2 linked regions of the Homo sapiens genome follow. The protein of the gene in region 2 purifies or fractionates together with the protein of the main gene of each other region. This does not show direct contact. Each region holds a gene or a part of one and is shown on either strand. Other genes may lie near its edges. The genes, in order: GRHL1 and CUX1.

The links.
Region 1: the proteins of CUX1 (region 2) and GRHL1 purify together in Homo sapiens (co-immunoprecipitation; one large-scale study listed by IntAct). This does not show direct contact.

The regions. Positions count from the first base shown.
Region 1 is NC_000002.12:9,996,607-9,999,976, reverse strand, and holds part of GRHL1 (grainyhead-like protein 1 homolog), read right to left. Parts: intron 1,013-3,370; coding exon 948-1,012; intron 1-947. UniProt on the Homo sapiens protein: Transcription factor involved in epithelial development. Binds directly to the consensus DNA sequence 5'-AACCGGTT-3'.
Region 2 is NC_000007.14:102,191,382-102,195,209, reverse strand, and holds part of CUX1 (Homeobox protein cut-like 1), read right to left. Parts: intron 1,369-3,828; coding exon 1,320-1,368; intron 1,135-1,319; exon of another isoform or gene 1,005-1,134; intron 1-1,004. UniProt on the Homo sapiens protein: May be involved in intra-Golgi retrograde transport.

The sequences.
Region 1 (3,370 bases), on a different chromosome or scaffold from region 2:
TAACACTAACTTACATGATGTGAAGTCACAGCCCCCTGACAAATTACACACTCCAGCAAGTGAGCCTCAAAGTTTAAATGAACTACTATTATCAAACAAAAAATAAAGAATACAAAAACAAGAAAATAAACAAAAATAAATTAACTACTATTAAGTCCAACTCTTTCCACTAGAACCATCTAGAAATTTCCCATTAGAATTTGTTTTAAAACTAAGCCAAAAAATTCTTATGCTAGCCACTGCTTATCCATGCCAAACATCATAGACAGACAAAAAAGAACTAAAAATACTAATTTCTAGACAAAGCAGCAACGTGACATAACTTGGAAATAGGATCCTGAGCAGGAGGGTAGAGCAGGGCATGGGCTGCAGAGGCAGGGAATACCAACCATGGCCCCGAAAAGCCTCTTGAACTCTGAGCCTCAGCCGCCTGTCTATAAATATAAACAAGCCCTGAGACCAGCTCAGAAAGAAGACGTGAAGACCAAGCGCAGCACCGTGGGACGTGCCCAACCCAGTGCCCGGCTCCAACGGGCTCGACACACGGAGGTGCTGCCCTGGCCATCCTCAGTGGCGCTGGCCACACACCCTGGAGTGTGGAGCCATGGCACTGCTGCCAGGCATGTGGAGGGCAAAGAAGGTGACTTGGAGAAACAATACACAAAGATCTCCTCAAGGCAGATCAATTTTATCTAAGTAATTTCGTATATAATTTAGAAAAGCCACATTCCAGCACCCAGGTTTCTTTGGCTGCTTCTGGACTGGGCACGATGCACACGTGTCACACTGGCACAGGGTGTGTGTCACTGGCACAGGAGGGTGTCACTAGCATGCACGGTGTGTTACATGGTGCTGGGGGGTGTCAACAGCACTGGGGGGTGCGTCACACTAGCACTGCGGGGGGCATCAGCACTTTCCGAGGTACACAGGACGCAGTGGCTGCTTACCCCTTTTTACACTTCTTGAATATTTTCCCAATCTTGTCATGGGGAACATCGTATTTGTCTGAGATCTAAAAGAGGAAAGAAAAATAATTACAAAACCCTGTATCAAGGCTTTAGAAACCAAACAACAAATATATATATATGTATATATATGTGTACATATATATACGTATATATATGTGTACATATATATACGTATATATATATGTGTACATATATATACGTATATATATGTGTGTACATATATATACGTATATATGTGTGTACATATATATACGTATATATGTGTGTACATATATACGTATATATGTGTGTACATATATATGTATATATATGTGTGTACATATATATGTATATATATGTGTACATATATATGTATATGTATATGTGTACATATATATGTATATGTGTACATATATATGTATATATATATGTGTACATATATATGTACATATGTATATATATACATGTACACACATATATACATATGTATATATACGTATATATATGTATATATATACGTATATATATGTATATATACGTATATATATGTATATATATACGTATATATATGTATATATATACACACACACACACACACACACACATGCATAGTCACTCGACTTTTTGTTTTTCAAAAACGCAGACACAAAGACATGGAAAAGCCCCAGCTCGTGTGCTGGGGGCCTCCAGCTCTCCTCAGCCCGGCTGCCCCTCACTGTAATGAGCTTCTGGGGAGCTGTGGCTGTCTTCCTTTCGGGACATAGAGGCTATTTTTAATATTTTTAAAGAGAATGGGTGAATTGCTCCAAGGACAAACAGCTGATTCACTCTAGATCAAACGTTACACTTGTCATCCAGACCATCCTCAGGCTGGCATCACCAGCTTCACCTCAAGCCACAGAGCAAAGCTCAAGGTGGCACTGAGAAACAGAGCCTCAGGTGGCAAACGTGCAGATCCTGCCAACCTTCCAAACACGTGTTTCAGACCAGACCCCAGCTCCAAGTTCTCACCACACAAACCCTTTTTCTTTTCTGTACGAGTGGATGATAATACTTTGTGTTCTGACATGTAAGACCTGTCATGAGTTCCTCGTGAGCCATGAACAGTTATGCTGGCCCAGTAATTCTGCATCCTCTTTACTCTCCTCTTTCCCTGTAATCAGAATTTGCATGTTTTTTGTTTGTTTGTTTTTTGTTGTTTTTTTTTTTTTGAGACGGAGTCTTGCTATGCCAGGCTGGAGTACAGTGGCGGGATCTCAGCTCACTACAACCTCCACCTCCCTGGTTCAAGTGATTCTCCTGCCTCAGCCTCCCGAGTAGCTGGGATTACAGGCGCCTGCCACCAAGCCTGGCTAATTTTTTGTATTTTTAGTAGAGACAGGGTTTCTCCATGTTGGCCAGGCTGGTCTCGAACTCCTGACCTCAGGTGATCCTCCTGCCTCTGCCTCCCAAAGTGCTGGGATTACAGGTGTGAGCCACCGCACCTGGCCAGTTTGCATGATTCTTAAGACATGATGAAGGGTCATCAAAAGGCAAGAAAAGAGAAACCCAGGGGACATCCTAGGAGGCAGGAAGTGACAGTGGGAACGGCGCTGCCTGTGCTGTGGGCAGGCAGGGATGCACTGAGTGACACCCGTGGACTTGGGGCGCCTGGCTGAGAGACCGCACAGCAGCTCCCCAAACCCACGCCCCATCTCCCTGCTTTATTAATCTTCATGGCACTCATCAGTACCTGAAAAATGACCTCAACTTCTTTGCTTATTTTGGTGTCTGTGTCTTCCTAACTACAAAATAAACTCCATTCAGCACTGTGTCACTGACGCGCATAACTCCAGTGCCCGCCACAGTGCCTGGCATGAAGCAAGCCCTTTATCAAGATGTGTTAAATGAATTCAACACACTACAGTCATCAGAGGGAGCTGGGGGAGATGCTTTTAGCCCAATTATGGACACACTTTGAGCTTAAAGATCTCTACGGTCTCTAGGAGACAGGCTGGTAAATATCTGCACTCAGTGCTGATGACATGCGTTTTTCCAGTGCACAGCTGGAACGGGAAATTAACACAGCAGCCTTCCATGTTTCCTCTCTTACTGATATCCCCACAGGGAGCATGGGGTCAGTTTATTCCAGCCTCGTGCTGAGATCCTCGTAAGATGGACTTACGGCCATCACTGGTTACACGTCTACTTTCTCTGCAATAGGCTGTAGTGAGGTCTTGATGCAAGTTCAGTAATTTCCTAGGATTGGGAGTTTTAAAGGTAGACTGAGGAGCCACTGTTTTTATGTATGAAGTTTTTAAGATTGTACTTGATTAAAAATCACTTTTGTTAGCTTCTAAGTGGCTTGCTAAATGGCAATCTCCCTTTAACCACGTATATAAAAATTAAACATTTCATAGGCCATCACAGATGCATTCACTTCA
Region 2 (3,828 bases):
CCGTGCCTCATTTGGCCATAAGACTGGCTGCCAAGCCACAAACGTCTGTCCGAACGTTACTGTAAAGGGAACTTTTCTTTTTTTTTTTTTTTTGCCAGCCACAAAGATGTTGGCTGTCTTCTGGGCATCAGGAGTCAGATTCCACTTAGGATGTCAATTTTATTTGATTTGATTTTTTAATTTTTTGAGATGGAGTCTCACTCTGTCGCCCAGGCTGGAGTGCAGTGGCATGATCTTGGCTCACTGTACCCTCTGGCTCCTGGGTTCAAGTGATTCTCCTTCCTCAGCCTCCCAAGTAGCTGGGATTACAGACGTGCGCCACCACGCTCAGCTAATTTTTTATATTTTTGGCAGAGATAGGGTTTCACCATATTGGCCAGGCTGGTCTCAAATGCCTGACCTCAAGTGATCCACCTACCTCAGCCTCCCAAAGTGCTGGGATTACAGGAGTGAGCCACCATGCTTGGTCTGGGATGTCAATTTTAATTGGCCACCAGATGACCCTGGGCCACAGTCATCCTTCCCTTGTACCTTCTCTACTGAGGCAGCATGTAACTAAAGTTCCTAAACCAATCCATTTTTGGCTGCTCTTTAATGCAATTAAAAAAAAAATAGTCAGTCTCAATCTGTTGTCCAGGCTGGAGTGCAGTGGTGCGATCATAGCTCACTATAGCCTTGAACTACTGGGCTCAAGCGATCTTCCTGCCTCAGCCTCCCAAGTAGCTGGGACCACGGGTATATGTCACAGTACTTGGCTATTTTTTTTTTTTTTAATAGCAACATGGTCTTGCTATATTGCCCAGGCTGGTCTCAAATTCCTGGCCTCAAAGCGATCCTCCTGTCTTGGCCTCCCAAAGTGCTGGGATTACAGGCATGAGCTACTGAGCCTGGCCTTCTTAAACACAATCTGAAATTGTTTTTTATTTATGTTCTTAGTACCTGCTGAAGTGAAATCACAATTTCACTTCAGTTACCAGTTTGGAAAACACTAGCTTTTCTCTTTTTGCCTCTTTTTGTTAAAGATAATTTGCTTTTTGGTAGTGCCCATCTCCTATCAGTCAGGGATGAAGCAATCCCTTGTTCATCCCCAGCTTGGCTTTTGATCTATGCCTGGTTCATGCCTTGGACACATGGAAAAAAAGGAGACAAAAAAAAAAAGATAATTTGCTTCAACTTGGTTAAATGTTCTTGAAGTATGACTCATCGGCTGTAAGTGAGAGGTCTCGTAGAAACAGTGGATCATGGGATATGCCGGAGGGACCAGTGGTAACCAGCAGCGGGGCTGATGCTAGTGCTGACCATTGAGGTGAGACACGTACCTGTGTCCCAGCGCCCTCGGACGGTGCAAACTCCATGGACTTCAGAATGCTGCAAGAGCACAACAGAGGGGTTATTTTATTTATTTTTTGAGACAGAGTCTCGTTCTGTCACCCAGGCTAGAGTGCAGTGGCGCGATATTGGCTCACTGCAACCTCTGCCCAGGTTCAAGCGATTCTCCTACCTCAGCCTCCCGAGTAGCTGGGATTACAGGCATGTGCCATCATGCCCAGCTAATTTTTGTATTTCTAGTAGAGACGGGGTTTCACCACGTTGGCCAGGCTAGTCTCGAACTCCTGACCTCAAGTGATCCACCCGCCTCAGCCTCCCAAAGTGTTGGTATTACAGGCATGAGCCACCAGAGTGATTATTTTCTACTTATACCTTTGACAACAGCCACATTAATAAGCATTAACATTACAATTTCCTGCTCTCCAGGAACCGAAGAACTGTCAACTTTAACAACTTCCCTGGCAGTAATAGAATCTGATAATGTCTCTAGAATAACTATTCAACTAGCAGTTGGCTGGCAAAAGTTTCTTGCCTAGCATGTAAATCATTCCATATGGAATCACACCAGGTCTGTTCAGAGTATAATTTTAAAGTTTAATACAGACATAACATTGTTGCAAGTGGAATGTATTTGTAAAGCTTAAAGGGAAGGAAAAAGTTGTAAGGAGAAGCCAGAGAGAGGGGAACCCACCAGGGCGGCCACTGCCCACACCTCACTCCTAACTGGCACCTACCTGGGGACCAGGGGACATAGGCAAAGAGCAACCTCCTAGACTTGGATGACTCAGAAGCCAGGTGGGCAGACCTTCTCTGCAGCCCCAGGTTGGGGAAGGAGTGCAATGACAAAGATGTGGCAAGAGAAGGTGACTTCTCCCTCCCTTGTTCTCAATGGCACTGAAAAGGGCCGCACCCTGATCACTACGGTCTCTGGGCTGTCTCAGTGAGTCCAGGTCCCCAGGATTATTACTGTTTCTTGAGTTCCTTTTGCTGTGGATGTCCCTTTTTTGCTGAGTTTACCAGGGAGAAGAGGGGAAGTGAGGCTATGTGGCTTTGAAGGAGCTGCAAGTGTTTCTTTGAAATACCAAGGATGGAAGAGAGAGACCCAGAGCAGGCTGGCTGGACCGTGAGATTTACGACTCGCAGGTGCAGAGTCAACCGGACCTTCGCCATGTTCCTGCAGCCACAATTTCGGCCTCTGTCCCCCTAGTGTGAGCCACCACACCTGGATAATTTATTTTTAGTAGAGACGGTTTTGGCCAAGCTGGTTTCCTGACCTCAGGTGATCTGTCGGCCTCCCAAAGTGCTGGGATTACAGATGTGAGCCACTGCGCCCAGCTGAAAGGGGTTTCTTAAGATGGAATCCTGTCCTTCGTTTCCTATTTTCTTTAGGATTATGTAATAAAAGACCACGTGGCTCTTTATCTATTCTACAGATCTTTACCAGCAGCCTGCTATCCGCTTGTTGCCGTGGGGAATCAGAACCACTCCTGGTCCGTACTCCAGGAAATTTACAGGCCATTACAGGTAATAGGCAAGACTCCAAGTGGTCCATTAAGACAGAACTTGTGAGGACCCCAGCAGGAGGGATCTTGATGGATTGGAGACCACGTCTCAGTGTCATGATGAACAAGCATTGGAGAAGGGCCCTGAAGGGACAGGGTGTCTTGTGCTGCAGTGCATGAGGATCTGAGGTCAGCATCCCCTGTTGCGTGGGGGTGAGGAAGTGGAAATGGGACGATGCTGAGAAGGGGACGCGGGCAAGAGCTCAAGAGCACAGCTGGTTCACCAGGAAGTGGAAAACTAGGAGCGCATTTGGGCAAAGAAGCCACCTGAGTGGGGCTTCCAGATGTGCACATGGTGGTGGGGCCTGTCATGTGCGGACGCAACAGAAAGAGTTAGCAGAAATGCAGTGACAAGCGGGGCTGGTGTGGCAGCCCTTCAGTGGGGGTAGGGGCAGCCTGTGGTCCGGCAGGCTGTGGATGAGAGGGAGTAGAACGGTATGTGTTGCAGGCTGGAGCCTGGAAGCCTCAGCTCCCAGGGGATGAAGTGAACGTGGGGGTTGGGGGAGAAGAGGAGGAGGAGGAGGAGCAAGAGGAAGAAGAAGAGGAAGAGGAAGAAAGAAGAAGAGGAGGAGGAAGAAAGAAGAAGAGAGGAAGAAAGAAGAAGACAACGAAGACGACAATGAAGACGACGACTAACTCCCAGGGTGAGGCTGGGCAAAGGCCTTCGCAGCAGTTTCTCTGGCTCAAAATTAAAAGGCCCAATTTCTTTTTCTTTTTGGAAGAGGGAAGAAGAGGGAAAGGAAGGAAAGAATGGGATAGGAGAGGCAGGTAGAGAAGGTTAACCAGGTAATGTTTAATAATAAGTTACATGTAATCCCGGCACTTTGGGAGGCTGAGGTGGGTGGATCACCTGAGGTCGGGAGATTGAGACCAGCCTGACCAACATGGAGAAACCCCATCTCTACCAAAAATACAAAATTAGCCCGGGGTGGTGGCT